Regions from separate parts of the Homo sapiens genome. Here all the other regions are linked to region 1. Evidence: fine-mapped expression QTL. A gene starts in region 1. Each other region holds a variant in brackets. All regions are shown on one strand. Distances are between the middles of the regions.

Region 1 (5,144 bases):
TGCACCCCAGCCTGGGCAACAAGAGTGAAACTCTGTTTCAAACAAAAACAAAAAGAAACAGAAAACAACCAAGACTCTTATCAGTCCACATGACAATACTCTGTGAATTCTCACAATGGCTGTAGGAGGTGGGTGCGTTATCACCCCCATTTATCAGGTGAAGACACTGAGGCACAGAGAGGGGATGTAATTGCTCATTCACACAGCTGGCAATTGACACAGCAGGGACTTGAACCCAAGCATCTAACCCCAAGCTTGTGCACTTCCTTGGGGACAATTTGGCTACATGTTTAAAAAGCTTTTAAAAATATTTGCCTCCTTTGACCTCTTTTAAGACTTTCAAGAAATCTTTGGCTGGGTGCGGTGGCTCACACCTGTAATCCCAGCACTTTGGGAGGCTGAGGCGGGTGGATCACGAGGTCAGGAGTTCAAGACCAGCCTGGCCAAGATGGTGAAACTCCGTCTCTACTAAAAATACAAAAAAATTAGCTGGGTGCGGTGGCAGGCGCCTGTAATCTCAGCTACTTGGGAGGCTGAGGCAGGAGAACCACTTGAACCCAGGAGGCGGAGGTTGCAGTGAGCTGAGATCGTGCTACTGCACTCCGGTCTTGCCAACAGAGTGAGACTCTGTCTCAAAAAAAAAAAATCTTTAATATCTCGACAGGCAAGGTGGCTCACATGTCTAATCCCAGCACTTTTGGAGGCCGAGGTGGGCAGATCACCGGAGGTAACTCCGGTTTGATACCAGCCTGGCCAACATGGTGAAATCCCATCTCTACAAAAATATAAAAATTAAGCATGATTACCGGTGCCTGTAATCTCAGCTACTTGGGAGGCTGAGGCGGGAAAATCGCTTGAACCCGGGAGGCGGAGGTTGCAATAAGCAGAGATCACGCCACTGCACTCCAGCCTGGGCGACAGAGCGAGACTCCATCTCAAAAAAAAAAAAAAAAAATCTTTGACATCAGAGATTCATATACAAAGATATTTATAACATCATCAAGTTAAAAACAACCAGTAGTCTGTGAATGATTAATAGATAACAGCAAATAAATGCACAAAGGTAGCTGGGCACGGTGGCTCACTCTTGTAATCCCAGCACTTTAGGAAGCCGAGGCGGGTGGATCACCTGAGGTCAGAAGTTCAATACCAGCCTGGCCAACATGGTGAAACCCGTCTCTACTAAAAGTACAAAAATTAGCCGGGCGTGGTGGCGGGCGCCCGTAATCCCGGCTACTCAGTAGGCTGAGGCATGAGAATTGCTTGAACCCGGGAGGCAGAGGTTGCAGCGAGCCGAGATCACGCCACTGCACTCCAGCCTGAGCGACAGAGCGCAATTCTCGTTTCTAAAAAAAAAAAAAAAGCACAAAGGCCTTGAATGACACCAGACAATGCCCGGGGAGATAGGATAGTGGGATGGGGGCAGCGGGAGCCTTGGTAGCGGAGTCCACGGTGGGATTCAGAGACCTGCAGAGCCAGGGCCGGGAGGGGCAGGGCAGAGGAAGGGCGTGCAGCGACGCTGGCATTCGGACGTGAGAAGGCGGAAGGTGCGGGAGGCCCCAGAGGATCTCGACCTGGACCCTGGAGCCCTGGGGCGGTGGCACATTCAGCGGCCGCTTTAGAGCGAGGGGGGCGGGGCGCGGAGCCAGGCTTAGGGGGACCAAGGTGGCCGGGGTAGTGGGGGCGACCCCGCGGGGCTGGGAGAGCCGCGGTGAGCCTAGGGGGCTGTGCGGGGGCCGCTCTGGACGCTGCAGCCAAGTGTCCCAGGAAAGCAGCGCCCAGGGCCCCACAGCTCCCTGTGCCCGGACCCAGCCCAGTCCCACTGCAGTGGGTGGCTGGAGGATGGCGAGTGTCCCGGGCACCCCTTGGGCCGGGTGAACGTGGTTGGGCACGGAGAGGGCGGGGCCCGTGGGCACGGGTGGGCCCAATGGGCCAGGGCTGGACCAATAACGAGAAAGGATGAATGGACAGGGGCTGAACTACAGAGAGAGGGCGGGACTATTGGGCGAGGGCTGGACCAATGGGCAGGGGCTAAACTAATAGACGAGGGCTGGACCAATGGCGCGGATGAGGCTGCTGCGTCGTCAAGGATGCAGAGCTTAAAGCAAGGCAGTGGCTTCCATGAGCCTAAACACCTTCCCTCCGCACGCTCGGTATCGCGACGGGGGAGAGCAAAACCTTTAAACAAATGCTCCAGTTTTCCCCGCAGAGAGCCGGAGTCAAATCCGTGAGGAAGCCCGGGGGTCGCAGTGAAGCCCAACCCACTGGTGCTGGGATAACCTCGCCCGCAACCCGGATCCAGGCCGCAGGTCCCCCGAGGCTCCGCCCCTGACGGCGACACTCAATCCCGGGTGTCCCCGCCCCCTTACTGAATTTTGGCCCCGCCTCCGCCCTCCGATTGGCCGGACGCCAGCTCTACGCCGCACGGGCAAGACGCGGAGGAGCGGCCCCAGCCAGAAGACAGGGCACCCGCGGCCTTGCTGCGCATGCTCGCGCTGTGACCCCGGCTTGAGGTAACAGCGCGAGCTGAGGCTGGGGCCCTTGGCGCGGAGGCTGAGGGACCCGCCGCGGCGCTGTCGCCGGAGAGGGAGGGCACCGCTGTCGTCGGTGAGGACGGGCCCTGGCGGGCGGGGAGGGTCCTGCGTCCTCGGCATGGACGAGTCCCCGGCCCGGCTCTCTCGGGGGTCCCGAGGGCTGCGGGTGCTGAGGAGGGGTCCGCGTCCTGGTGCTCAGGCCGCCTCCTGTGGGGTCTCCCGCGATTCCCTCTTTGCCTCTCGCCCCTCCTTCCCCACCCCCTCCAGTCCCTTGTCCAAAGCCTCAACACCCCCACACGAAGGAGGTCCGCACTCGCCCGCCGGTCCCTGGCCGTGTCCGCCGCGCCCAGCGCTGCCTTCCCGGCACCCCCCAACCCCCGCCGGCCTCGTCCCACGGTTGCAGCTCGGGAGGTCCCTGCAGGGACGGCAGCGAGTTGGAGGCGTGAGATACTGGGGCGGGGGAGACACTCGGGGCCTCAGGGTGTGGGTATTCTTGAGAGAGGAGAGAGCCGGGGAGCTGGGACCATTTGGGCGCAGCCCAGCCCGCGTTTGATGCCAATTGCATTGGGTAAAGGAGTGAAATAAAGATTCTGAGCCCTGGTGATTAGGGGAAGGAGCTGCCATGGCTGAAATTGCCATGGTGGGGAAGCTCCGCGCTGCACACCTTAGAGTAGCAGTTCTTGGCCTTCTTGGGGCAGGGGTCACTGCCGGTTTTTTAAATCTCCCTGTGAGGACGTGTACTGCACACCTTAGTGTCCCGTCATCCTGTCGGGGTCAATAACAGCCCCGCTGTGGACTGCGTGGAGCAGTAATTATTGGGGAGCAGCTGTCCATATCGTCTGGGAACTTTTGCGATGACTTCACCCTTGCCTGTCATCTATTAACAGCCCCTGATAAATTCACCACTATTTCCGTTACGCAGATGAAACCTGCTGGGAGGGTAAGGGATTTGTCCTCGCGGCTGAGGATGCCGGTGCTGGTGGACATTAGTGATGTTTCTCCCCCGTGCGTATGAAGATGATTCTGTGGGTCCACCATGAGGCACCAGGCAGGGGTCCTGTCGTCCAGAACATCGTCAGTGAGGGATTGAACCTTGTATTAGTTTCCTGTTGCTGTCCTAACAAATAAGGTGGCTTAAAGCAACACAGGCCGGGCGCGGTGGTTCACGCCTGTAATCCTAGCACTTTGGGAGGCCGAGGCAGGCAGATCACAAGGTCAGGAGATAGAGACCATTCTGACTAACATGGTGAAACCCCGTCTCTACTAAAAAAAAAAAAAAAAAAATACAAAAATTAGTCGGGGCCGGCGCGGTGGCTCACGCCTGTAATCCCAGCACTTTGGGAGGCCAAGGAGGGTGGATCACCTGAGGTCGGGAGTTCGAGACCAGCCTGACCAACATGGAGAAACCCCGTCTCAACTAAAAATACAAAATTAGCCGGGTGTGGTGGTGCACGCTTGTAATCCCAGCTACTTGGGAGGCTGAGACAGGAGAAAGGCTTGAACCCGGGAGGCAGAGGTTGCAGTGACCCAAGGTCGCGCCACTGCACTCCAGCCTGGCCGACAAGAGCGATACTCCGTCTAAAAAACAAAAACAAAAAAAAAACTCCGGGTGATTCTTAGGGATAGTGACATTGGGGAACTGCTGTTCATATGTTCATAGACTCAATTTACCTTTTTCTGAATATTTAACAACTTTATTGAGATAATTCACATACCGTGCAATTTACCCATTTAAAGTGTACATTTCGGCCGGGCGCGGTGGCTCACGCCTGTTATCCCAGCACTTTGGGAGGCCAAGGAGGGCGGATCACGAGGTCAGGAGATCGAGACCATCCTGGCTAACACGGTGAAACCCCGTCTCTACTAAAAATACAAAAAATTAGCCAGGCGTGGTGGCAGGCGCCTGTAGTCCCAGCTACTCCGGAGGCTGAGGCAGGAGAATGGCGTGAACCCGGGAGGCGGAGCTTGCAGTGAGATCACGCCACTGCACTCCAGCCTGGGCGACAGAGCGAGACTCCGTCTCAAAAAAACAAAACAAAACAAAAAAAAAAATATACAGTTCAGTGGCTTTAGTGTGATCACAAAGTTGTGCAACCCTCATGAAAATTCCTTTTAGGACATTTTCATCACCCCATAAAGCACATACCCACTAGTAGTCAATTCTCATTCTCCCCTTCCCCACCCCAATCCCGAGATAACCACAAATCTACGTTCTGTCTCCATAGATTTTCCTACTCTGTAGATTCTCTAGACTCTAAGTAATTTCATGTAAATGGAATCATATAATATGTGGTCTTTTGGGTCTGGCTTCTTTTACCGAGCATAATTTCTTCAAGGTTCATTCATGTTGTAGCATAGATTTTTTTTACTGCCAAATAATATTCCATTTTATACATGCACCACATTGTACTTATTCATTCATCCATTGATGGATATTTGGGCTGTTTTGAATATCCATCGAAACGTTTTGGCTTTCATGAATAATGCAACTGTAACATTCATGTACACATTTTTATGTGGACATGTGTTTTCCTTTCTTCCAGGCATATAGCTAGTAGTGGAATTGCTGGGTCATAGGGTAACTCTACATTTAACCTTTTGAGGAACTGC
Region 2 (5,144 bases), 29 kb after region 1:
GTGAACTGTGATCTCACCACTGCACTCCAACCTGGACGACTGAGGGAGATTCTGTCTCAAAAACTAAACAAAACAAACGAAGAAACAAAAACAGCATCCTGGCCGGGCATGGTGGCTCATGCCTGTAATCCCAGCACTTTGGGAGGCCAAGTCGGGCAGATCACCTGAGGTCAGGAGTTTGAAATCAGCCTGGACAACGTGGTGAAACCCCGTCTCTCCTAAAAATACAAAAATCAGCCGGGCATGGTGGCGCACGCATGTAGTCCTAGCTATTGGGGAAGCTGAGGCGGACAATCTCTTGAACCGGAAAGCAAAGGTTGCAGTGAGCCAAGATAGCGCCATTGCACTCCAGCCTGGGCATCGCAGTCAGACTCCTCTCAAAAAAAGCTGGAGGGGCTGGGCGTGGTGGCTCACGCCCGTAATCTCAGCACTTTGGGAGGCCGAGGCGGGCGGATCACAAGGTCAGGAGATCGAGACCACGGTGAAACCCCGTCTCTACTAAAAATACAAAAAATTAGCTGGGCGCAGTGGCAGGCGCCTGTAGTCCCAGCTACTCGGGAGGCTGAGGCAGGAGAATGGCGTGAACCCGAAAGGCGGAGCTTGCAGTGAGCCGAGATGGCGCCACTGCACTCCAGCCTGGGCGACAGAGCGAGACTCCGTCTCAAAAAAGAAAAAAAAAAAAAAAAAGCCGGGCGTGGTGGCAACTGTCTGTAATAATCCCAATCCCAGCTGCTCAGGAGGCTGAGGCAGGAGAATCACTTGAACCCGGGAGATGGAGGTTGCAGTGAGCTGAGGTCGTGCCACTGCACTCCAGCCTGGGCGACAGAGCAAGACTCCATCTCAAGAAAAAAAAAAAGTAATTAAGTTCTGCTACTATTTTATTTTTGAACAGGGTCTTGCTCTGTCGCCCAGCCTGGAGTGCAGTGGCATGAGCGCAGCTCACTGCAGCCTCCAGCTCCCAAGCTCAAGTGATCCTTCCACCTCAGCCTCCTGAGTAGCTGGGACTACAGCGCATCACCACATCCAGCTAATTTTCTCTTGTTCCTCTTTTCTTTTTTTCTGTAGAGAAAGAGTCTCACTATGTTGCCTAGGCTGATCTCAAACTCCTGGGCTCAAACGATGCTCCTGTCTCAGCCTCCCAAAGTGCTGGGATTACAAGCAAGAGTCACTGTACCCGGCCAACATGGATGAACTTTGAAAGTGCTATGCTAAGGCTAGGCGAAAGAAGTCAGTCACAAGAGACCACATATTTGTTGCATGATTTCATTTATATGAAATATGCAGAATACGCAAATCTATAAAGACAGAAAATAGATCATATTACTTAGGGCTGGGGTGATTAGCAAATTGGAGGGTGGTGGCTAAAGGTTTCTTCTTGGAGTGATGAAAGGTTTTAAAACTGACTATGGTGCTGTTTGCACAACTCTCTGACTATACTACATATCATTTAATTGTACACTTTAAATGGGAGAAATGCATGGTATGTGAATTATATTTCAATAAAGATCTTACCAAAAAATAGTAAGCTGATTGTGTTAACATAGTTTTATGAAAAAGTACAATATTTTCCCAAAGAAATTTAGTGAGACGAGTGACATAGTTATACATTTTTGCAAATATCTTTGTTGCGGGCTTAAAAGAAGACTACTGGCTCTCATACCTGCTTCTACATTCAATGTGTTACATCACACGTCATGCAGACTTTGTAATACTATGTAATATTTCTGCTTTTTTTTTTTTAGACACAGTCTCACTCTGTCGCCCAGGCTGGAGTGCAGTGGCGCCGTCTCGGCTCACTGCAACCTCCGCCTCCCGGGTTCAAGTTATTCTCCTGCCTCAGCCTCCCGAGTAGCTGGGATTACAGGCGCCCAGTACCACGCCCGACTAATGTTCGTATTTTTAGTAGAAACGGGGTTTCACCATGTTGGCCACGCTGTTCTCGAACTCCTGACCTCAGGTGATCCACCCGCCTCGGCCTCCCAAAGTGCTGGGATTACAGGCGTGAGCCACCGCGCCCGGCCCAGGTATTTTTTTGTCGTTGTTGGCTTTCTGATGTAAGAAACAACTGTCCCTTCTCCCCCGTTGACTTATTTCCTTCAGTTTGGACTCATATCGTAGTCAAGGTTATAATCCGTTGCTATCGCTGTTTATTTGAATCTCACACTGGTTCCGCTCTGGGGTAGGGTCACTGGGGGCGTCAATGAGATGCATGAGAATCGCCTTCCCACGGGGTCAGGAAACTGACAGGCCCAAGAGTGCATCTCAGCAAACGCTCCGTTTCCTGCGGGCAGCCTCAGATACTGGGGACCGTCCTGGGGTCTCAATTAAGCGCCCCCTACCCCAGCCCCTTTACGCCAAGAGCGTCCTGTTCAGCTCCCCCATCCTAGCTCCGCCCCTGGACGCCGCCGTCCAATCTCGGGATGGCCCCGCCTTTTCCGTGAGTTACGTCCCCGCCCCCATGCGCTGACAGGCCAGGCCTGCGGCTCGGCGCCGCGCAGGGAAGACCCGGAGCAGCGGTTTACCTAAGGAACGGGCCGCGCGGTCTTGCTGCGCATGCTCTGAAGTAGCGCGCCTGAGCGTTCCGCAAGGCCGGCTCCCCGGCGGGGTCGCGCGCGCGGTCACGGGGCTCGCTCCCGAGGGGCAGGTCGGGGCTGGGAGCTGGTGCC[C/G]GGGTCGGGGTGGCGGCGGCGGCCTGGGTCGCGGGGTCGACGCTCGCTGCTGCAGCGGCAGAGGCTGAAGGATCCGCCGCGGCGCTGTCGCGGGAGAGGGAGGGCCCCGCTGCCGTCGGTGAGGACAGGCCCCTGCGGGCGGGGAATGTCCCGCGTCCCCGGCGTGGACGCGCCCGCAGCCCGGCTCTCCCGGGGGTCCCGAGGGTTGCGGGTGCTGGGGAGGGGTCTGCGTCCCGGCGCTCAGGCCGCCTCCTGTGGGGTCTCCCGCGATTCCCTCCTTGCTCCTCGCCCCTCCATCCCCACCCCCCCGTCCCCTGGCCTAAGCCCGACACCCCCACATCAAGGATCCCCGCACTCGTCCGCCGTTTCCTGGCGGTGTCTGCCCCGCCCAGCGCTGCCTTCCTGGACCCGCAGCATCAGCCCCGTCCCACGGTTGCAGCTCGGGCGGTCCCAGTGACCTTGCACTTTTGCGGGTCGGGACGCACCCCGCTCCCGCTTCTGACCCTATAGATCTCCGGTGACGGCTTTCGAACTTTGTTGACCCACAGCCGACACTGAGAAATGCCTTTTACGCGTGTACTCTGTGCCTGTGGGTCTGGATGACTGAAGCACAAGTTTAAAGGGAGACGCTTGTTTAAGCTCACATGACGCAGCTGGATCTGTTCGGATTAAATTCCGTTCCATTCTCTTCCACCCCGTTCCAAAAGGCTGCTGCTAACCCATGGAGCCTGCACATAACGGGTCTGACGTAGTTGAAACCCTCGCTCTAAACCCTGCCTGTTGTTCCTTTATTCCTTGTACTGGAAGCTGAACTCCCATAGTCAGATAATCATGTGCAAACTCCAATTCCAACGAAATGGCTTATTTTTATTTGCATATTTCTGCTTTCCAAGGGCCAATATGATTTCCAGGGCTTGATCTAGATTTTCTCGTGTGATTATATCATGTTTCTCTTGTTCCTTTCCCAAGTGCTACTGGCGGGACGTGTGGAAGGAACAAGGCTGAGGTTGGGGCTAGATTGCGGAGTGTTTATGACGCCCAGCTGATGATGCACTAAGGCTGGAGATGGAGATGATTTAATTGGGGAGAGACATGCTGAAAGTTAAGCTTTAGGAAGAGTGACCTGTCAGCACCCTATGTGGAGAATTGGAGTGGCTGCTTGCCAAAGCTGGCAAGATCGTTCAGAGGCTTTGGCTTGGGCTAAAGAGGTCGTGGTAAGGGATCATGTCCTGAGTTGGTGGGAGTGGGAAGGAGAGGGAAGATGGGTATATCAGGCATAGAGGGAGAGAGATTTGAGGATGCATTAGGCTGTGGGAAGGAGTAAATAAACTTATATTATGATGGAGGGTGACTGGGGAATACCGGGCTGGGGGGGTCTCATTGGCCAAGCTCTCCCTTTCTGTGCGCTCTAATTTCTAAGTTGCTTTGGAGCTGTGGCTCTTGGGCAATTCTGCACCCCAGGGAACGTTCTGCAGTGTTGGTGGTCACAACGTGTGGTAGGGCATGACAGTGGGATCTGGCAGGTAGAGACCGGGGTTGCTGCTGAACACCCCACGCTGAACAGGACAGCCTCCCACAGCAGAATCATCCGGCCCAAAATGCCAACGGTGCTGAGATTGTGAAGTTCATTTTTAGAGTAAATTTTAATTATCTGGGCATCTCTGCCACCTTCAACCTCTTCAGGAGGAATGTCTGTGTGCACCCACTGAGCCTGTGATGTCACCATAGTGGTTCATGTCTGAGGCAAGTGCACCTCCAACGCTCATGGTTCAGTTGCGGGTAGGTGGGAGGTGGGTAGACACTGGAGTCATCCAGGAGCTTTAAAAAAAAATTTTTTTAGTAGAAATGGTGGGGGCGAGGGGCAGGTCTCACTATGTTGCCTAGGCTGGTCTCGAACTCCTGGGCTCAAACAATTCTCTCACCTGAGCCTCCCAAACTGCTGAGATGACAGGTGTGAGCCACCGTGCCACCGGCCCATTCAGAAGCTTTTTAAACAGAGGGCCTTCCCTCCTCCCGCTCCTATCACTCAGGACCCCTACTGCACCTGGATGCTGAACACCTTGTTCTTGTCTAATGGTCGACAGTTCATGGAATAATTTCACCTGCAGTATTTCATTTGCCACTTTACTTTCTTCACAGGTGAAACCAGCCCAGAGAAGTTACGGGATTTGCCCCCGGGGCTCCTGCCCAGCAAGCCAGCGCCGTGACCCAGGTGTGGGGGATGATGGTGACGCTTCTCACTCACGTGTGAAGGTAATTCTGTGGCTCCATCAGCTGCCGACAGAGCCGCCTGGTTTTCGAGCCTTACTGATTAGAGTTTGGACCCCTTGGTGTCTGAGAGACACCTGACAGTTGCTAACATGTGACCCTTAGGTCTACGCTGAGCCCTTGTGGTCACCAGCAGGACCGCAGCGTCCCAGTAGGCCATCTGGCATTGCACTCAAATTGCTCCGCACCCTCAATTCTGGGAGAAGGGGA
Region 3 (5,144 bases), 22 kb after region 1:
AGCCAGGAGGATCACCTGAGCTCACCTATAGTCCAGCTACTCAAGAGGCTGAGGCTGGAGGATTGCCTGAGCCCAGGAAGTCAAGGCTGCAGTCAGCCATGATGGCACCACTGAGCTCCAGAGTGGGTGACATGATGAGACCCTGTCTAAAAAAATGTATATAAAGTGGATTTTTGTAGGAGGGGGTTGCAATAGCAGCTTACTTAGTTCACTCCATGCATCGACCTGGTATTGCAGTAGCTCCAAGAACGGTGCCCCCCGCCCATGTGTGTGGTTGCTGAGTGTAGATGTCATTAATTTTAATTTTGAAAAGGGGACAAAAATTACAAATTACCTCCAGTAATTCCACTACTTAGAGGTAAATTTTAAAAAATATATGTGTGTGTGTGTGTATATAATATATATACTCTGGCTATATATATATTTATATTTATACATATTTATATATATTTATATATATTTATTTATATATTTATATATATTTATTTATATATTTATATATATTTATATTTATATATTTGTATATATAAACTCTGGCTATATATATATATTTAGCCAGAGTTTCACTCTTGTTGCCCAGGCTGGAGTCCAGTGGTGCGATCTTGGCTCACTACAAACTCTGCCTCCTGGGTCCAAGTGATTCTCCTGCCTCAGTCTCTCCAGTAGCTGGGATTACATGCATGCACCACCACACCTGGCTAATTTTTTATTTTTAATAGAGACAGGGTTTCTCCATGTTGGTCAGGCTGGTCTCGAATTCCCGACCTCAGGTGATCCACCCGCCTCAGACTCCCAAAGTGCTACGATTACAGGCGTGAGCCACCGCGCCCGGCCAAAAAATATATATTTTTAAAATTTTTTTATTTTCAGAAAATCAAGGTGATGCCACACATTTGTTGTTGAGACAGAGTCTCGCTCTGCCGTCCAGGCTGGAGTGCAGTGGGGAGATCTCGGCTCACTGCAACCTCCGCCTCCCGGGTTCAAGTGATTCTCCTGACTCAGCCTCCCGAGTAGGTGGGAATACAGGCGCGCGCTAGCGTGCCTGGCTAATTTTTGTATTTTTAAGTAGAGACGGGGTTTCGCCATGTTGGCCAGGCTGGTCTTGAACTCCTCACCTCAAGTCATCCTCCCGCCTCGGCCTCCTAAAGTACTGGGATTACAGGCATGAGCCACCGTGCCTGGCCCACATATGTTTTTTCATAATGTGTTACAAATGTCTTCCTTCTTATGAATGCTGCACAACATTCTTTTTGCTGCTTGATGCCCACTGCAGGGATGCGTGAAATCCACTAGCTCCAGTGGCCAGACACATCCCGGTTGCCTCCAGGTTGTAAGCAATCCTGAAATAGCCTCGTATGTTCCTAGGACAGAGTTCTAGAAGTGAGATTGCCGAACTGGAAGAATGCAAGTTACATTCAACCCACGTCCTGCGAATGCCGATCTCTCCGGCATTTGTCAACACCTGGTTTTATCATCAAGAAGAAAACAGTAATAACGCGTCCTCCGCTTGGCCCTAGCGTGCACAGCCTCTGCGCTTTTCACCTCGAGGTCTCATTTTCCTTGGACAGCACCGAGCGCTGGGCAGGGCCTCATCCGGGTTCAGGGCCGGAATCTGGAGACGTTCTGGCCGATGCTCCTGACGGCCGGGAGAGGGCGCGCGCGGACTCAGCGGCGGCCCAGCAGCCTCCCCAGGACCCAGGCAGTGCTGGCAGCCAGGAGTGCGGTTCCGCCCCGCAGCCTCAGTCCCGCTCCGCCCACCCGCCTGACCCCCACCCGGGCTCCTTACGGCCCAGACACCGGCTCTAAGGTGGCTTCTGCAGGGATGGGAGGTGGGCGACTGGGAGGGGTGGAGGGGGCCTGTGTGTTGACCCTGCGGGTGGCAGCCGTTGGGAAATTGCAATGGCGTCCACACTGTCGCTGCCCAGGGCGCGAGCCGCAGCCTCTCCTCCCGTCTCGCTTCCTCCGACAGGCGCCCGACTCGGACACACGGCGCCCCTGTGGTTACCACATCCACTGCTTTTTGGTCTCCTCACCCAACCCCTTAACATAAACTCGACACCAGGGAAGGCATCTTGGACGATTTTGGTCCCTGAGGGTCCTAGTGCGAAGGGCAGGGAGAGAGGGAGCGGTGTGGTGCAGGGGGATACAGAACGCGGAGGACATCTAGGGGCTGAGGATGCGGGGACGAGGAGCGCGCGGAAGAGCCGAGGTTCCGGGGT[T/C]GGGGGGTGCGGATTTCAGAGGAACCGCCGGGGATGTGGACGGACTCGGAAGGAAGGGGTCCCAGAGAGGACGCGGGCGGCTGCAGGACACAAGAGGTGCGGGACGCAGGAGGCCGTGGGGTCGTGCGGGAGCCCAGGGCACCTCGACATGGACCCGCCAGACCTGTGGCTCCTCCAGCGGCCGCTTTAGAGCGAGAGGAGGTGCGCAGGCCGTGAGGCGGGTCTCCCTGGGGTCTCCCAGGGAGGAGCGGCGCCCTCCCCGAGCCAGCCGAGGACGCGCAGCCAGAGGGGGGTCGGGCGGAGAGAAGAGTGCGGGCGGACCGGGACGACCCCTGGGTGATAGGAGAGCCGCAGTGAGCCCAGGGCACGGTGCTGGGGCCGCTCTGGCCGCCGCCGCCAAGCGTCACAGGAAAACAGCAACCAGGACCCCGCGGCTCCTGGCGCTTGGACTCAGCCCGGTACCGCACCGCGTTGCTGGAGAATGTGTCCTTGGCGCGCGCTGAGCCAGGAAGGGACAGCGGGAAGGGCGGGGCCCGTGGGCAGGGGAGGGACCAGTGGGCGGGGACCGAATCAATTCGCTAGCGGTGAGCCAGTGGTCGAGGGCTAAACCAATGGGCAAGGCGTGGACCAATGGGCGAGTGCTGGACATCAATGAATGGGGCCTGAACTAATGGGCGGGGTGGGGCCAAGGGGCGGAGCTGAGCCAATAGAAGGGAGCGGAACCAATGGGTGGGGCTGAACCAATGGGCGGGGCGGGGCCAATGGGCTAGGGCTGGGCCGGGGCGGGGCCAATGGGCTAGGGCTGGGCCGGGGCTGGGCCAATGGGCGGGGCTGGACCAATGGGCGGGCCGGGCCAAGGGCGGGCACTAAGCCGACGGAAGGGGTGGAACAAAAGGGCGGGGATGGACCAATGGGCGAGGGATGGGCTGGGCCAATGGGCGTGGCTAGACCAATGGGCGAGCGAAGGGCCAATGGGCAGGGCGGGGCCAAAGGACGGGGTCTGAGCCAATGGAAGGGGGCGGTACCAATGGGCGGGGCTGAACCAATGGATGGGTTGGACCAATGGCAAGGGCTGGACTAATGGACGAGGGATGGGCCGGGGCTGGACCAATGGGCGAGGGCTGGACCAATGGCCACGGGCTGGGCGGTGGCTGGGCCAATGGGAAAAGGAGGATTTCACCTCGTGGAATGCTCAGGGGATGAAGGGAGTATTCCTTTATCTAGCTTCTACTTTGACATAATTTCTCACCTACAGAAAAGTTGCAAGAATCCCAAAAGGAGGTTGACTGGGGTGGCTCACGTCTGTTTCCCAATGCTTTGGGAGGCCAAGGAGAGAGAATCGCTTGAGCTCAGGAGTTTGAGACCAGCCTGGGGAACATAGGGAGACCACGTCTCTAGTAAAAATTAAAATTAAGACCGGGAGGGGTGGCTTACGTCTGTAATCTCAGCACTTTCGGAGGCCAAGGTGGGTGGATCACCTGAGGTCGGAAGTTAGAGAGCAGCCTGACCAACATGGAGAAACTCAGACTCTACTAAAAATCCAAAACTAGCCGGGCGTGGTGGCGCATGCCTGTAATCCCAGCTACTCAGGAGGCTGAGGCAGGAGAATCACTTGAATCCGGGAGGCAGAGTGCAGGGACCAGCCCCACAGGGTCTGTGGGTCTCTCCCCGTGTGCGGCGATGAGAGAGTGTAGAAATAAAGACACAAGACAAAGAGATAAAAGAAAAGACAGCTGGGCCCGGGGGACGACTACCACCAATGTGCGGAGACCGGTAGCGGCCCCGAATGTCTGGCTGCACTGTTATTTACTGGATGCAAGCAAAAGGGGCAGGGTAAAGAGTGTGAGTCATCTCCAATGATAGGTAACGTCACGTGGGTCATGTGTCCACTGGACAGGGGGCCCTTCCCTGCCTGGCAGCCGAGGCAGAGAGAGAGAGGAGACAAAGAGAAAGACAGCTTACACCATTATTTCTGCATATCAGAGACTTTCAGTACTTTCACTAATTTTCTACTGCTATCTAGAAGGCAGAGCCAGGTGTACAGGATGGAACATGAAGGCAGACTAGGAGCATGACCACTGAAGCACAGCATCACAGGGAGACGGTTAGGTCTCCGGATAACTGTGGGCAAGCCTGACTGATGTCAGGCCCTCCACAAGAGGTGGAGGAGCAGAGTCTTCTCTAAACTCCCCCGGGGAAAGGGAGACCCCCCCCCCCTTTCCTGGTCTGCTAAGTAGCGGGTGTTGTTCCTTGACACTTTTCGCTACAGCTAGACCATGGTCCCCCTGGCAACGGGTGTCTTCCCAGACGCTGGCGTCACCGCTAGACCAAGGAGCCCTCTGGTGGCCCTGTCCGGGCATAACAGAAGGCTCGCACTCTTGTCTTCTGGTCACACCTCACTGTGTCCCCTCAGCTCCTATTATGGTATGAGGCCACCACTTCTCCTGTTGTCCTTCCCAGTTTCTCCCCAACCTCCCCTTTTCCCTAGTTTATAAGACAGGAGAAAAGAGAGAAAGCAAAAAGTTGGAAAGAAACAGAAGTAAGATAAATAGCTAGACGACCTTGGCGCCACCACCCGGCCCTGGTGGCTAAAATAATAATATTATTATTAACCCCTGACCAAAACTACTGGTGTTATCTGTAAATTCCAGACATTGTATGAGAAAGCACTATAAAACTTTTTGTTCTGTTAACTGATGTTTGTAGCCCCCAGTCACGTTCCTCATGCTTACTTGATCTATTACGACTTTTTCACGTAGACCCCTTAGAGTTGTAAGCCCTTAAAAGGGCTAGGAATTTCTTTTTCAGGGAGCTCGGCTCTTAAGACACGAGTCTGCTGACGCTCCCGGCCGAATAAAAAAACCTCTTCCTTCTTTAATCCGGTGTCTGAGGAGTTTTGTCTGCGACTCGTCCTGCTACACTATC
Region 4 (5,144 bases), 26 kb before region 1:
ATGAATTGAATAGCTTCACGGGTCTGGCTGTTGCCTCAAAACATAGCCAGATACTTTTGAAGTAGAAATGAGGCCAGGCACAGTGGCTCACACCTGTAATCCCGGCACTTTGGGAGGCTGAGGCTGGTGGATTGCTTGAGCCCAACAGTTCAAGACCAGCCCAGCCAACACAGAAAAACCCTGTCTCTACAAAAAATACAAAAATTAGCCAGGTGTGGTAGCACACACCTGTAGTTCCAGCTACCTGGGAGGCTGAGGTGGGAGGATCACTTGAGCCTGGGAGGCAAAGGCTGCAGTGAGTTAGGATCACACCACTGCACTCCAGCCTGGGTGACAGAGTAACACCCTGTCTCAAAAAAAAAAAAAAAAAAAAGAAGAAGAAGAAAGAAAAGAAAAGAGAAATGGCCTGAAATTGCCCACCAAGGTTTCTTCTGGATTGCAGCCCATCTTTCCTTCCACCTCTGTCATGCTGTGCCTCTGGCCTCCACCCTTTGTTGCTCATGGTGTCTGTGTCCCTGAGTGTCTGCCATCCTCTGTCCCCATCTGCCCCCAACCACCTTGGAGAGGAAGAAGCCGCACCTCCATCTTGGATGCTCCCCCAGCCTGAGATCCAGCAGTGGGTGTTTGGAGGGAGGTGGATAGAGGCATCAGGTAGGCAGATGGGCAGGACCCGCTCTGAGAACTGTATGGAGCGCTCGAGACGCACCAGGGCAATGTCTGCACAGGCACCTTCCTTCCAGGAATACACAGGGTGGGGCTCCACCCAGGCAACACCCACCTTCTGGGACCGAGAGCCAGGGTTCCCCAGCTGCCAGGCCCCCAGCAGCACAGAGAACAGGTATGGTTTGTTCAGGTTGCTGGAAGGAAAGGGAAGGGGAGGATCAGCCAGGCCTGGTCTGGGAGGAGGTACCTGGGGGAACAGCATGGGTGTGAAGGCCCCTGAAGGCAGGAGAGGCTTCTAGGTAGAATCGAGGGGCACCAAGATTGAACAGAGGCCCGGAAGCAGAGCCTGTAAAGGGAGCCCAGGGCCTGGGGCACAAAGCCCAGGGCCTTAGAAGATCAAGTGCCCCAGGCCGGCTGTACATACTCCTTGAAACAGTGGGCAGCAGTGATCACCCAGCGGCTGGTGAGCAGAGAACCTGCGCAGTGGTGGGTCCCATTCTTCTGGATGCTCACGATCCAGGGCCACTCGCTGTCAGTGCTGTCCTCGCCGCCCACAACCCGGTTCAGCTGCTGGGGCTTCCCACAGGCTGGGGGAACTGGAGGGTACGGTCAAGTTTTGTTATCTCCAACTTCCTACAACCCACCCCCGGAATCCCAATCCCTAGGCCTGCACCCCAAGCTTTGCCCACAGCCCAAGCTCCGTTCATGTCCCCAAGCTCTACCCACATCCCAAGTTTCACTTGCACTCCAAGCTCCACCCACACCCCAAGCTCCACCCACATCCTAAGCTCCACCCATACCCCAAGCTCCGCCCACCTCCCCGTCCCATCCCTCCCTCCATCCTCACTCTCTGCTGGTCCTCACCTGGCCCTGGCCTTTCCACTCACTCCTTGTCAGCTGCACCTGGTCTCTCCCTCCCCCTCTTTCCTTACCCTGCTTTCCACTCTGTTCACCTTCCTGGCTCTCTCTCTCCTCTGGCCCTGGCATCTCTCAAGCCTTTCTCCTTGCATCCGTGTCTCCTTCCTGCCTCCCTTCCCCTCTAGCTCTTTCCCCCTCTCACCCCAGCCCCTTTCTGACCTGTGCCCAGGGGACGGACACATAGACACTGCCTGCGCGTGGGCCTCCTCCCTTCTCCCTCCCGTCAGAGCTGCCAGCTCCACTCACCAGGTATCCTGGCCGCATTGAGGATGGCTGAGGGCAAGAGAAGGAAACGGTTAGGCCGGTGAGGGGCCCCAGGACACAGTGGTGAGGGGCCCTCAACGCCCAGTGAGGAAGGCCCCCAACACCCAGTAAGAAGGGATCCCAGTGCCCAGTGAGGTGGAGGTCCCAGCACCCAGTGAGGAGGGTCCCTCAGCGCCCAGTGAGGAGGGGTCCCAGCACCCCCTGAGGAGGGTCCCTCAGCGCCCAGTGAGGAGGGGTCCCAGTACCCAGTGAGGAGGGTCCCTCAGCGCCCAGCGAGAAGCCCCCAGCACCCAGTGAGAAGGGGTCCAGTGCCCAGTGGGAAGGGGTCCCAGCACCCAGTGAGGAGGGGTCCCCAGCGCCCAGTGAGGAGGGCTCCCCAGCGCCTAGTGAGGAGGGTTCCCCAGCGCCCAGTGAGGAGGGGTCCCCAGCGCCCAGTGAGGAGGGCTCCCCAGCGCCCAGTGAGGAGGGGTCCCCAGCGCCCAGTGACGAGGGGGTCCCAGCGCTCAGTGAGGAGGGGGTCCCAGCGCCCAGTGAGGAGGGGTCCCAGCGCCCAGTGAGCAGGCGTCCCAGCGCCCAGTGAGGAGGGGGTCCCCTTGAGTACCTGGTGGTGAGGAACCTCTAGCCCTCCAGTGCCCAGGGAGACTCTCAAGTCTCTCAACCCCAGGGCCCCTACCGGCGGGGCATTTCCTGGGGCCTGGCCAGGCCCTGGCTGCACAGCTGTGACCCTGCCCTCCCGCAGCTTCCCGTCCAGCCTGCCTTCCGGGGACCAGGACCGGCTCCTCGAGGGAGGCACAGACCTGAGCCCCTCGGCTCTGGACGCTGCTGCCGCTGGTGTGCCCTCCCCTGACCTCCTGCGGCAGGAACAACACAAAACGGTGCTTCCCCAGAGGCAAGCAGCGGAGGACGAGGAGATGGGAGAACACGGAGGCGAGAGGGAGCAGG[C/T]GATGGCGACGCCGACGGTAACTGGAGACCGAGGCGCGCTGCGTACTTGCTGCGTTTTCTGTTTCATCCTCACAGCCGTAGAAGAAACCGAGGCACAGAGCAGTTAAGGAGCAAGAGATAAACAGAGCAGAAGCGGAAAGGAGATGAGAGAGGCAAGGCCAGGAGGGAGAGAGGGAGGGAGGGAAGGAGGGAAGGAGGGTGGAGGTGAGAGGGAGGAGGGAGGAGCAGCCTCCGGACGTACCTGTCGACGCCAGCAGCAGCAGGGAGGTGAAGGTGCCGAGACAGCCCCCACCCAGGGCTGGGGGCGCTCCAGAAACCACCATGGCTGGTGGGGCGGGGGAGCAGGCAGCAGGCTCGAGAGACCCAGGGCGATGCGGGTCAGGGTGTGTAGGTTCCCTGCAGGTCGCCCCAGGTTTTATCCTGGGAGGCGGAATGCCGTCAGACCAGTCCCCAGGTGGCTCCCGCGGCCACCCCGGCTGTGGGTCCTGGGCAGAGGGCGGGGCTGCGGGGAGGAAGCCAGCCGCTACAGGGCTCTGGGGGGGCTCTAGCTGAGACCCCAGGATGTGGCCTCTGGAAGGGCAGGGGAGGGGGCTTGGGCCCAGAGGTCCCTGACATTAATTGTCCAGGGGCAGAGAAAGGTGCCAGGGCACTGAAAGGAAGGGGTTCCGGGCTGGGGAGGGCCTGGGTTTGGAGAGGCTGAAGTCTGGGGTACTGGGTGTTGGGGGTGGTCCTAGGGCCTTAGGGATCAAGGGGGTGCCCAAAGCTCAGTAACGGCTCCCACCTGCAGGGCCCCAGGCCCCTGTGACTCAGCCCAGAGACCTGGCGCAACCCGGGCTTGGGAATCCCGTTAACCCACTTCCCGAAAGCTGTGAATCAGGTGAGTGGCGACCTTGGTGGCCTCCTGGTGGCCGCCCTCCTGTCGTTCCTGGAGGCGGGGCTCTGCCCTGCGGTTCAGACACCTGACAACTCACCTCACCTGGACTCCTGGGAAGGGGAGGAGCCCATGGGCACCAGGGCTCGGCCAAGCAGGGGGGTTGAGAGAAGAGGGGCCCCGGGAAGGGCTGGGACTCCCAGGATTCAAAGAGCTGCTGGGCTGGGCTGTGGGGGGCCGGGTCCTGGGCTGGGAGTGGATTCTCGGTGCTTCCCCCCAGCGGCTGCCACAGTGGCAACCCGGGGCTGAATCCTGTGAGACCTTCCCTGACTCAGTGCCCTGCAGCGCCCCACACTTGGGACACTCCCACCCAAGCAGGGCAGGCTTCCTCCTCTACAAAGAGGCAGGAGCCTGCGCCCCTTCACTCATTCGATCAACAAGCCTCCAGCAGGGCCCTTGCTACCGCCGGGGGTGAATTAAAAACAACCATAGTGTCTGGGTGGGGTGGCTTATTCCTGTAATCCCAGCACTTTGGGAGGCCAAGACGGACAGATCATGAGGTCAGGAGTTCAATACCAGTCTGGCCAACATAGTAAAACCCCGTCTCTACTAAAAATACAAAAAAAAAAAAATTAGCCAGGCATGGTGGCAGGCGCCCTTAGTCCCATCTACTTGGGAGGCTGAGGCAGGAGAATCGCTTGAACCTGGGAGGCGGAGGTTGCAGTGAGCTGAGATCACGCCACTGCACTCCAGCCTGGGCGACAGAGCGAGACTCTGTTTCAAAAAAAAAAAAAAAAAACCATAGTAGTGAATATGTATGTAATAAATATATTTATACAAATATAAATATAGTATTTATATAATAGAGCAAACATTTAGGAGTGCCATGCATTGCCTCCTAATCCTCAAATGTCTTTATTATTCCCACTCTGCAGATAAGGAAACTGAGGCAGCTTAGGGCGGTTAAGTGACTTGCCCGAGATTGCTGGGTGAGTGGTGGAGCCGGACCTGCACCCCAACACTGGGGGTGGCTGCTGGGACTGCCCTCATGGAGGCTTCGGGAGCCTGGAGGAGGTGCCTCACCCTGCCTGGGGTGAGCCCTAACTTGCTCCCTGCAGAGTCAGGGTGGCGTGGGTCAGGGGCTTAGCAGACCACCATGGCTGCTTCAGGGACTCCATGGCTCTGAGCAGGACGGGTTTTGCCCTGGGGGTGGACTCTGTGCTGCCCACCTCCTCAGTCTGTTAAGGGTTAGGGTGGCAGCAGGACGACTGGCACTTTCTCGTGGCAGAGAGGCCATGCCCTGCTCCACCGAGAGACAAGTCAAACAGCAGGGCCCTGGGGAGCCCCAGAGGATGCATTATTCTCTGTCCCAGGACTCAGAGGGGGTTTGGGGGAACTGCAGGAAAAGGCCACGCAGAGTGGCCAAGGAGGGGCAGTGTCTCTGAGCAGCAGCAGCACTGCAGCAGAAATTTCTGCTGGGCTCCCC

Evidence for each region. PIP is the estimated chance that this variant, and not a neighbour inherited with it, causes the effect.
Region 2: its variant is fine-mapped to the expression of FLYWCH2 in whole blood (TOPMed, PIP above 0.99).
Region 3: its variant is fine-mapped to the expression of FLYWCH2 in fibroblasts (GTEx, PIP 0.95).
Region 4: its variant is fine-mapped to the expression of FLYWCH2 in whole blood (TOPMed, PIP 0.99).

Annotation. Positions count from the first base shown.
Region 1 is chr16:2,880,760-2,885,903 of GRCh38, forward strand. FLYWCH2 (FLYWCH family member 2) reads left to right here and starts at 2,456. Exons shown (of 4, transcript NM_138439.3): 1 at 2,456-2,607. RefSeq lists an enhancer at 1,373-1,873 and silencers at 1,602-2,071, 2,572-2,741, 2,832-2,891.
Region 2 is chr16:2,909,371-2,914,514 of GRCh38, forward strand. FLYWCH1 (FLYWCH-type zinc finger 1) reads left to right here and starts at 2,561. Exons shown (of 10, transcript NM_001308068.2): 1 at 2,561-2,784; 2 at 4,806-4,919. RefSeq lists silencers at 2,312-2,371, 2,422-2,731, 2,752-2,901, 2,932-3,031, 3,005-3,194. The variant C/G (reference allele first, on the strand shown) is at 2,667.
Region 3 is chr16:2,902,696-2,907,839 of GRCh38, forward strand. No RefSeq gene overlaps it. Among named protein-coding and RNA genes, the nearest start is that of FLYWCH1, 6.7 kb to the right of the region's middle. RefSeq lists silencers at 1,644-1,873, 2,544-3,363, 4,530-4,599 and an enhancer at 2,429-2,929. The variant T/C (reference allele first, on the strand shown) is at 2,220.
Region 4 is chr16:2,854,995-2,860,138 of GRCh38, forward strand. It overlaps PRSS22 (serine protease 22), which reads right to left and starts at 3,176. Exons shown (of 6, transcript NM_022119.4): 1 at 3,029-3,176; 2 at 1,828-1,854; 3 at 1,088-1,259; 4 at 580-857. The coding sequence starts at 3,110. RefSeq lists enhancers at 2,561-3,161, 3,162-3,762, 3,763-4,362. The variant C/T (reference allele first, on the strand shown) is at 2,788.